Regions from separate parts of the Homo sapiens genome. Here region 1 is linked to region 2. The links come from fine-mapping of genetic effects on gene expression. A gene starts in region 2. The other region holds a variant in brackets. All regions are shown on one strand. Distances are between the middles of the regions. Region 1 has its middle 28 kb from the start of CAMTA1-DT. Region 2 holds the start of KLHL21 (kelch like family member 21).

Region 1 (5,368 bases), 150 kb after region 2:
GTAGTTTTCTTTCCCTACCTAAAGTGGAAACATTAAGGATTTAATTCTTTAACATTAAAATTAATCCAAATATTGATAAATCTATCAACAAGTTTTTAAGGGAGATAATTTAATGCATAATCCCTGCTGGGTGCTTATTAAACATGAGGCTGCATATTCCAGGGGACAGAATTTGTGTTTGAATCAGGTGCTTCGTTGGAAAGATTTTGGCTTAATTCAACACATTTTTTAAAAAGGAAAAACAAATTGGATGTGCAAATCTTCTTTGTAAGAAAAGGGAAAAAATCATTTTATTATGAGCAGTAAATCAAGAAATCAAGTTCTTACATCTATGAGTCCTTAGGGGCAGACTGAAAAATCTCACGGTATCTCACTTCATGTCATGAAGCAAATGGTGGTGGGTTAAGTTCTAAATTTGCATGAAAAATTCAGGGCAGAAATAAATTAGGGTAAATTGAGGGATGTCAAAATCATATAAAAATTAAGATGAGGCCAGGCGCGGTGGCTCACGCCTGTAATCCCAGCACTTTGGGAGGCTGAGGCGGGTGGATCACAAGGTCAGGAGTTCGAGACCAGCCTGGCCAACATGGTGAAACCCCGTCTCTACTAAAAATACAAAAAATTCGCCAGTCAGGGTGGTGTGTGCCTGTAATCCCAGCTACTCGGGAGGCTGGGGCAGGAGAATTGCTTGAACCTGGGATGTGGAGGTTGCAGTGAGCCAAGATCGCACCACTGCACTCCAGCAGCCTGGGCAACAAGAGCAAAACCCAATCTCAAAAAAAAAAAAAACAAAAATTAAGATGTTTGGCAACTTTCAAGGTTTTTTTTTTTGTGTTTTGGAGACAAAGTCTCACTCTGTTGCCCAGGCTTGATCTTGGCTCACTACAACCTCTGCCTCCTAGGTTCAAGCCATTCTCCTGCCTCAGCCTCCCAGATAGCTGGGATTACAGGTATGCGCAGCCACACCCGCTAATTTTTGTATTTTTAGCAGAGATGAGGGTTTTGCTATGTTGCCGGAATGGTGTTGAACTCCTGACCTCAGGTGATCCACCCACCTCGGCCTCCCAAAGTGCTAGGATTACAGGTGTGAGCCACTGAACCCAGCCTGGACTTTTAATATCTTTAAGAAGTATTTTTGCCTTCATCAACACAAACCTTTGGACATATGTGCAAGTAACTACAAGAAAAATTACCAGTTCATCAAATGTTTGACTTGCCTGCCATTCTGTCACGTGGTAAATAAGGAAGAAATCCTCTCTCTTACCACCTTCCCAGATGAAATAGTTCATAGTTCTAGGCAAGTCGGCTAGGAGCTGTTTGTAAAGCAGAGCTAGGTACAGACAGATGCCATCCCAACGATAATGCTTATCACCTAGAACTTGAAATTGACAGCCGGGTGTGGTGGCTCACGCCTGTAATCCCAGCACTTTGGGAGAACGAGGAGGGTGGATCACCTGATGTCAGGAGTTTGAGACCAACCTGACCAATATGGTGAAACCCCGTCTCTACTAAAAATACAAAAATTAGCCGGACATGTTGGCGTGCGCCTGTAGTGCCAGCTACTCGGGAGGCTGAGACAGGAGAATTGCTTGAACCTGGGAGGTGGAGGTTGCAGTGAGCCTAGATCGTGCCATTGCACTCCAGCCTGGGTGACAGAGCGAGACTCCGTCCCAAAAAAAAAAAAAAAAAAGAACTTGAAATTGACACATCATGGGCTCCCCCCCTTAATTTATAGTGCAATAAAAGCAGTAATAAATGTAGGTGCACTTCACCTTTGCAAAGAGTTACCATTTTTACGATTTTGACAAGTTCACACTCCTGGTTTTACCTTCACACTATCCCAGGCTCAAGTATTTAATATTTAACAATCTGTATTCTATAAATAATAGATGTGCCTGTCCTCACAACTGAAGATCAGCAGCAGATTTTATTGTTGACAAGAGTGATAATGTTCTCTCACCTGCTTAACTTTTTATGTTACTATTAATTTCCCCTTTGTGGCCGAGGGTCCAGGGAGGGGTTTGGGTCATTCTGGAGACAAATGGGCTGTAATAAGGCACCTGGAACCAAGCATTTGGAGAAGCATGGATAACTCTATGATCATTTCAGCAGTCTGAGGTCACAGACTCATGCAAATGGTGGAGCTGGGTGGAGTCATCCTCTCACTTCCTATGACAGTGAGGCAGCTGCAGGTCTCCATCCAACAAACACTGGGCTAATGCCTACTAAGTGCAAAGAAGACCCTGTGGGACAGTTGTCTGTGAAGGGATTTGGCCAAGGTCAGACAGCTAATTCTTGGAAGAGTGAGTGAAATTCAATTCAGTTCAATAAATGGTTGGAAAACATTAAGAAAGAGAGTCCTGGCTGGGCACGGTGGCTCACACCTACAATCCCAGCACTTTGGGCAGCTGAGGCAGGAAGGTTGCTTGAGCCCAGGAGTTCAGGACCATCTTGGG[C/A]AATATAGATAGACCTCATCTCTACCAAGATTTTTTTTTTTAATTAGCTGAGCATGTGGCACACACCTGTAATCACAGCTTCTCAGAAGGCTGAGGTGGGAGGATTGTTTGAGCCCGGGAGGTTGAGACTGCAGTGAACCAGATCATGCTACTGTACTCCAGCCTGGGCAACAGAGGAAGAGCCTATCTCAACAAACAAAAAAAATAAATAAATAAAAAAGAAAGAAAGAAACAAAAGAAAAAGAAACACAGTCCTGGCTCTCAAAAAGCTTAGATCATATGAGTTCTCTGCTGAAAATTTCTACAAATGGATTTCTGCTACATTTATAATAAAACCCAAACTCCTCATCAGGGCCAAGTCCCCTTGAGTTCTGACTTCTTCTTTTTTTTTTTTTTTTTTTTGACATGGAGTTTTGCTCTCTTGCCCAGGCTGCAGTGCAGTGGTGCAATCTTGGCTCATTGCAACCTCCACCTCCCAGGTTCAAGCGATTCTCCTGCCTCAACCTCCTGAGTAGCTGGGATTACAGGCACGCATCACCACGCACAGGTAATTTTTTCTTTCTTTTTTTTTTTAGTAGAGATGGGGTTTCACCATGTTGGTCAGGCTGGTCTCGAACTCCTGACCTCATGATCTGCCTGCCTTGGCCTCCCAAAGTGCTAGGATTACAGGCGTGAGCCACCGCACCCGGCCTTATGTACATTTTTATATAAGGAAAACAAAGCTCGTAGAAGCCACGACTTGCCCAACGCCACCGTGTACCATTGGCAGTGGCAGGACCAGAGAGAGCCTAGCCCCGGCCATTCGTCCAGCGCCTTCCTTAGGATGTTCCCAAATTGGAAAGTAAGGCTGGAAACAAGAACGAAGGAAGCCAAGGAGTTTCTGCTGATACCATGATACTGACGGCCAAATAGGAATTTGGAAACAAACTCTAATTCCCTCGCCTATTTCCTTTTCCCTCTTGCATAGTTTACTGCTGACTATGCAATGGTTGGAAGAATTAGGCTCGATACTGGCTTCAGCCCGTCATCATCCTTACGGCTCTGAGGATCCCAGATCTTGTTAAATAATCCTCTGTAGCGTTTAATTGTGTCTTTGGGGAGGCTTGGATGAGGGGAGGCAAGCGAGGTGCTTCCAGTGCAGACTGTAAGGGGGTGCTCACTCTCCTGCTGTGCACACGCAGGGTGGGCACCCTCGAGTGGAAACCTCTGGAGACGCTGTACCTGGCTTCCTGGCTTCCTGGCTTGCCTCCCCCAGTCCTGGCTCTGGCCTTGGGTGCCCACCAAGCCTGCTGCTGGGGACGTGCTAGGTGCAGGGAGAGTGGTGTAGAGCTGAGTATTCCCACCTTAGGCTCGCCGTCATTGCGCCTCCATGTGGGCACAGTCTCGTTTCTTTTTTTTTCTTTTTTCTTTTTTTGAGACGGAGTCTGGCTCTGTCGCCAGGCTGGAGTGCAGTGGCGCGATCTCGGCTCACTGCAAGCTCCGCCTTCCGGGTTCACGCCATTCTCCTGCCTCAGCCTCCCGAGTAGCTGGGACTACAGGCGCACGCCGCCCCGTCTGGCCAATTTTTTTGTATTTTAGTAGAGACGGGGTTTCACCGTGTTGCCCAGGCTGGTAGCAGACTCCTGAGCTCAGGCAATCCTCCCGCCTCGGCCTCCCAAAGTGCTGGGATTACAGGCTTGAGCCACCGCTTCCGGCCCACAGTGTCTTTTCTCTTTACATTCGAGCCTCCCCTCCCCTCCCTGTGTCCAGCAGCAGACTCGGTTTATCCCTAGAAGACAGAGAGTTCCCACAGAGGAATTCTCTTCCCCTTCCCAGGGCCTGTCATTGCAACTCAGGGGGGCATTTTCACCCAGAGAAAGGGGCCTCAGGGGAGTAGTACAGAAAATGAGGGAATTCTCTCCCTGCTCTCGCCACAGCCTCTGCATGTTCACTGGGGCAAGTGGCTCCTCTTTCCCATCCAGGATTTCTGGCATTGGAAATTGGAAAACAGTCAGGTGACGTGTCTCATCAGGCCTGTAAGAAAATATTATCTGCTGCCAGGCATGGTGGCTTACAACTATCTCAGCACTTTAAGAGACCAGTGTGGGAGGATTGCTTGTGGTCAGGAGTTCCAGACCAGCCTGGACAACATAGGGAGACCCTGTATCCACCAAAAAATTTAAAAATTATCCAGGTGGTGCAGTCCTGTAGTCCTAGCTACTTGAGAGGCTGAGGTGGGAGGATCGCCTGAGCCCAGGAGTTTGAGACCAGCCTGGACAATACAAGGAGACCTGGAGTCTCTACAAATAATTTAAAAATTAAGGCCGGGCACGGTGGCTCACGCCTGCAATCCCAGCACTTTGGGAGGTCGAGGCAGGCGGATCACGAGGTCAGGAGATCGAGACCATCCTGGCTAACACGGTGAAACCCCGTCTCTACTAAAAATACAAAAAATTAGCCGGGCGTGGTGGCGGGCGCCTGTAGTCCCAGCTACTCAGGAGGCTGAGGCAGGAGAATGGCGTGAACCCAGGAGGTGGAGCTTGCAGTGAGCCGAGATTGCACCACTGCACTCCAGCCTGGGCAACAGAGCGAGACTCCGTCTCAAAAAAAAAAAAAAAAAAAATTAGCTGGGCATGGTGGCGCGTGCCTGTGATCTCAGCTACTTGGGAGGCTGAGGTGGGAGGATCACCTGAGCCCAGGAGGTCGAGGCTACAGTGAGCCATGATTGTTTCATTGCATTCCAACCTGGACTACAGAGTGAGACCTTGTATCTAAAACATAAATAAAATATGATATACTAAGTTAATGCTAACTCAGCACCCATTGCTCATAGGAAATTCCTGGCCATTGCCATTTTCCTTCAAATTGCAAGAACAGGCTGGGCGTGGTGGCTCAGCCTGTAATCTCAGAACTTTGGGAGGCTGAGGTGGGCG
Region 2 (5,368 bases):
AAAGCTAAGAATAAAAAGTGGTACTGGCTGTAATCGTAAATTACACCAGGTCTATTAGAAACCCCAGGACATGAAGGGACCCCAAGCATCCTGGGGGCTGTACCCCTTGGCCTCCCAGGCTGGCGCCACAGGACAGAGCGGACAAGACATTCTGTTTCACAGCCCTGAGCTCTAAAGGGAGAAAAGCAAGTTCTTGTTCTTAGGAAGTGAGCTCTGCCGGCCTCCTCCCTTCCATGGAGCTGTGTGAAAGGCAGCTGAAAGGAATGAACCAGCCACCTGCCTAAACCCAAGGGATTAACTGCTCTGCTGGGACATTTATGGAAGGGTGTGCAGAAAGCTGGGGCCAGTGTGGCCAGTTCTGGGAAGAAATTATCTGCTCAAAGCCACTGGTCAGACTTTCAGAAGAGGGGAGGGACACGGTCCCCAATCAACTTGGGGACAACCTTGGATTGGAAAGAGGCACAGATTCTGGCAGAACCCAGCAGAGGCTGGACTCAGAGCAGCAGGCTAAGGAAGCTGTGGCAACAGAATCCAGCAACTGTCCCACCTGACACCTCAGAGCCCCACTGGAACTCGGAGCACGTCCCAGAGTGGGCTCTCTCGCGAACATGCAAGGCTGGGCACAGCAGCTGTGACATCCCAGTCCCCACCTCCTTGCCTGATAACCGCCTCACACGCCTGCCTGGTGGGTTCTTTCCTTATATAGCAGTCACAGAGACCGCCCTTCCTCACCCCGACAAAGGAGGTAGCCTCGTGTTTGAACTGGGATTTATCTTTAATAAAAACCGTAGAAGCCCAAACTCAGGCGGACTGGGACCCGCCTACCATGACTCGGCAGTGTTTTGGGGTTTGGGCCAAGTAACTGGAAGAAAACCTCTTAACATGTGACCATGTTTACAGGCTCCGGGGAGTTCAGCCTAAACACCATGTGACCAGAGCACAGAGCCTAGGTGCAAGCCCAAGGGAACCTTGTCACCGGGTGACAAAGAGTGAGTCAGGGGGCCCGGTGTGGCTCAGCAGGGAGGGAGAAATTCCCCGGCTTGTGGGGAACAGATGCCTCACCGGGCGTCGGCCTCCTGCCCGTCCCTGGATTCCTTAAGGAGAAAAAGAAAGCACCCATTGTGCGGGGTGAATGCCCCAGTATCTTCCAACCAAGTGGGGAGGCACCTCCTGGGCACGGAGTTGGCTCAGCCTGGCAGCCCCGGCCGCACGGGGCACAGAGACCCACAAGCAGCTACTTGTCCCGGCTCACACAAGGGGCCCTTCTTCAAGGTTAAAAGTATCGCCCAGAGACATGTAGTCACCAGAGCCCCAGCTTGGACTCAGGTGCGCCCCTAGGATTCCAGGCTCTGTGCGCTTCCCCCGCGAATAGCTGGGCTCCCGTACCGGCGAGGTTCAACCCCAGAGAGCCTGCCCAGCCCCTGGCCCACTCACCCGTCACGTAGATGTCATTGCCCAGCGCCACGATGCTGTAGCCTCCGCCCAGGTGGTCTGGGAACTCGGCCAGGTAGCGCCACTGACCCGTCTGCGGGTTGTAGCAGTCGACAGTGACCAGCTCGTCACAGTCCTGGTCGCAGCCGCCCACGAGCACGAGGATCTCGGCGAGACCGGTGGACGGGCGAGGACGCATTCGGGGACAGGGCCCGCGGTCGTGGCGGTCGTAGCGCGCCGCCTGGAAGTCGCGCGCCTCGCGCAGCAGGCGCAGGCAGGGTGGGCAGCGCGCCACCAGCGGCTCGGCCTCGACGTGCGCCAACAGGTAGAAGCGGCGCACGAAGGGCAGGCGCACGGCCTCCAGCAGCTGCGGCCAGTGCGCGGCGCGGCGCGGCGGGTCAGCGCGGACCCAGCGCAGCGCCAGCTGGTAGGCGGCCTCCTCCTTGGGCACACACAGCCCGTCGTCCCGCAGGTAGCGCAGCAGGCGCGCCAGTGGCAGCCGCTCCAGCTGCTCGGCGCCCAGCTCGCCCACGTGGCGCAGAATGAACCGCTGCGCCGCGCTCGCCAGTCCCGAGCAGCTGAAGGCCTCAGCGAAGTCCTGCATGTCCAGGCAGTTGGCCAGGTCGAGCTGCTGCTGCAGGAAGGCCCCGCACGCCTCCTTCACGGCCGGGAACTGCAGCAGGTCGGCGGCGCGCAGCAGCGGCTCAGCGTTGTCGCCGCTTACCGCCACGCGGCCCGTGTAGCTGAAGTCCAGCAGCAGCTGCAGCATGTCGGGAGGCACTCCGTGCAGGCGCACCCGCTCGGCGCGGCTCTCGCGCAGCTGCCCCGCGAACATGGCGCGGAAGTAGGGGCTGGCGGCGGCCAGCACCGCACGGTGCGCCGGGAAGTCGCGCCCGCCCGCCGCCTCCAGGGTCACGTCCAGGAACTTGCGCTCGGCGCGCAGCTGGCTCAGGCCGCGCAGCAGGCTCAGGGCGTGCGCGGGGTCCGAGAAGGGAAGCACGGCCAGGGGCGCCGGTCGCTCCATGGCGCCTTCGATAGGTTGTCGAGGACGCCGCGGCCGGGGCCTGCGGAGAGACGCGGCGCGCTAGGCACCGCTGCTATAAATAGGGCGGGGCGCCGCGGCTCTCGAGGGGCGGGATGGGCGGGGAGACGTCTGCACCGCCCCCTTAACCCCTCTGTGCCGGGCGCCACCGCCCCCCGCGAGCGCGGGCTCGCCTGTCCCCCGCGCGGCGCCCGCCCCCGGCTCCGCAGGCTGAGTCACCGCTGTCCGCGGCCGGCTCCCTCCCTCCGCCCTTCTGCGTCTCCCCGCTGACGCCCGGGCCGGGGACAGCGAGTGACAAGTGCCAGGTCCGAGGGCGGCCTCGCCGCGCGCCGGGACCGGGGGCCTCCCGGGGTTGCCCACGACCCACCCGGCCCGGCTGCTGAACCCAACCCGGGAGAGGCGAGCTCGGCCCTGAAACCAAAGCCACCCCTCCTTTCACGCCAGACTTCCCAAGGGCGCCGGCCCAGGTCCCGGGGCGGCTGGGTACAATGGCTTTTTGTTTTGCTTTTGAGTTCCACTAGTTTCAAGGGTTGCTAGTTAACCCCATCACGGGACACACTCAAAGGATAGGCTTTTTACCATTCTGGACCAAAGCAAGAACGCGTATAAAGTTTTTCGGTGACGTTTTTTTCTTGGCGCATTTATAAGCGACCCGGGGCCGGATTCCAGGAGTCGGCCCCACTCCTGTGTTCCTGAAGGAGCTTCTGACTCAATCACACAGGCGTTAACTTTAGTCGGCTTCACGCGCAGTTGTAGTTTCCGAGTCTGCGTCGCAGCTGCAGGCTCCGGGGCTGCCCGCCCTAGGGGCTCCCGGGCCTCCCTGAAGCAGCTGCTCGGACTCCACGAGAGGGTAACTGGGTATAAAGAGCGAGGGCTCAAAGTCAGATAGGAGACCGCCTTGAAACTAGATGACGCCACTAAGCACAGTCCCGCCGTCACTTGTACTGCGGTGGGGAATGGTGAAAGAAGGAATCGCCCTTATTTTAGTTCCGATAGACACAGCACCACTTTGAATGTCACTTGTAGGGGAAAAAGAGCCCTCCCTTGGAGGCCATTTTTTCCTCAGTGGAAGGTAGGCTTTGCTCAGTTTTAGAAAAGACCCCTATTTCACCACCAGGACTGCTGCTTTGCAGAGAACACTTGGGTTTGTGCTGTTTTCCAGCCCCCCTACACCGGTGGGCCTTTGAGAACGCATTCCTGAGGAAGGCGCCCGCCCACGTGGGTCCCAGAGCAGGCCACGCGCATGGGAGCTGGCTATCATTTCCTGGTTCCAGCGAGGTCTAGGGCCGCGTAGCGTTTCCAGAAGACATTTTGTTTTTATTCCACCTCTGAAATGAGAACCGCAGGCTTTCTCTTCTACTTAAGAGTTTCACGTCATTTTGCCATAAGAATGCATCTGGTCTGAATTTCAGGGTGAGCATGGGCAGCACAGGCCCAAATCAGAAAACATTCAGGTACCCAGGCGGGCCGCCTGTTGCCCATAGAAGGACTGTTCACACAGCTATTCAAGGCAGCGGCAGCATTCCTGGGCCCAGGAGCAGGGCCAATAGCTTCCTTGCACAGGCTTTGTGACAAGAAAGGCTGAGTAGCCAGGAAGTGGAATGTTTGTAGGGAAAAGAACTCCCGTCCCCTGGGTCAGCTTACCCATCTTGCGTAAGTCCAGTGATTAAATCAATAATGTTTCCATAGTTGAGGATTGAGTACGGTTTTTCTGTATTCCCAATAACAGGGATTTTTAAACATCATATTTCAGTCTTACTATGTAGCCTTGAAGAATAATGATGTATTTATTGAAATGGAAAGATGTTTGAGCTATAAAGCGAAAAATCAGATTACTCATTGTATGACCCAAATTGATTTATATGTATTCATATGCCTAAAAAAATTTATTAAGTTAACATTTTCGGCCAGGCGCCGTGGCTCACGCCTGTAATCCCAGCACTTTGGGAGGCCGAGGTGGGTGGATCACCTGAGGTAGCGAGTTCGAGACCAGCCTGGCCAATATGGCGAAACCCTGTCTCTACTAAAAATAAAACAATTATAATTAGCTGGGTGCTGTGGCGCACGCCTGTAATCCCAGCTACGCGGAGGCTGAGGCTGGGGCAAGATTTCTTGAGGCCAGGAGTTTGAGACCAGCCTGGGCAACATAGTGGGACCCAATATTTTGTCTCAACAAAAAGTTTTCAAATTGGCCAGGCGTGGTGGCATGCACCTTTAGTCTCAGCTACTTGGGAGGCTGAAGTGGGAAGATCACATAAGCCCAGATGACAGTGAGCTGTCATTGTTCCACTGCTCCCACTCTGCCTGCCCCACCCCTGAAAAAAAGAAAGAGCTAAATAGCATGCCTGGGTTAGTAGGTTATTCAAAATTCCTAACACAGCTGATAGGTCTAAATCGGTTCCTTTCTTTTCTCACCACATTCCTTTGTTGAATTATCTATATATATACATGGTTTCACATGCCTGGTAGGCCCCGGTTATCAATGAAATACTTCTTTTCTCAAGATATGAATTCTTAATTTTACTTTGAACTTAAATTAACATTAACAGATAATGTACGTGTAGTACAGAAAGAGAATGCAGGCAAGCAAAAACAAAATGAACATAACCACCTAGATGACATGTTGTTTGTTTTTTGAGACGGAGTCTCACTCTGTAGTGCACTGGCACGATCTGAGCTCACTGCAACCTCTGCCTCCAGGTTCAAACACTTCAAGCTTGAACCCGGGAGGAGGAGGTTACAATGAGCTGAGATCACGCTACTGCACTCCAGCCTGGGCGACAGAGTGAGACTTCATCTCAAAAAAAAAAAAATTAAAATTACAAAAATGGCCATTGCCTAAGCAATTTAAGATAATGTGATTTACCTGAACATTCTGAGGCTACAAATTAAAAA

The links. PIP is the estimated chance that this variant, and not a neighbour inherited with it, causes the effect.
Region 1: its variant is the best candidate, but not a certain one, in a credible set for the expression of KLHL21 in whole blood (TOPMed, PIP 0.65).

The regions. Positions count from the first base shown.
Region 1 is chr1:6,754,514-6,759,881 of GRCh38, forward strand. No RefSeq gene overlaps it. Among named protein-coding and RNA genes, the nearest start is that of CAMTA1-DT, 28 kb to the right of the region's middle. The variant C/A (reference allele first, on the strand shown) is at 2,457.
Region 2 is chr1:6,600,363-6,605,730 of GRCh38, forward strand. KLHL21 (kelch like family member 21) reads right to left here and starts at 2,507. Exons shown (of 4, transcript NM_014851.4): 1 at 1,435-2,507. The coding sequence starts at 2,455. LOC107984913 (a long non-coding RNA gene) reads right to left here. Exons shown (of 2, transcript XR_001737882.3): 2 at 3,085-4,285. RefSeq lists enhancers at 1,023-1,162, 1,193-1,242, 3,003-3,092, 3,113-3,272, 3,313-3,462 and silencers at 1,503-1,582, 1,763-1,922, 2,523-2,912, 3,877-4,225.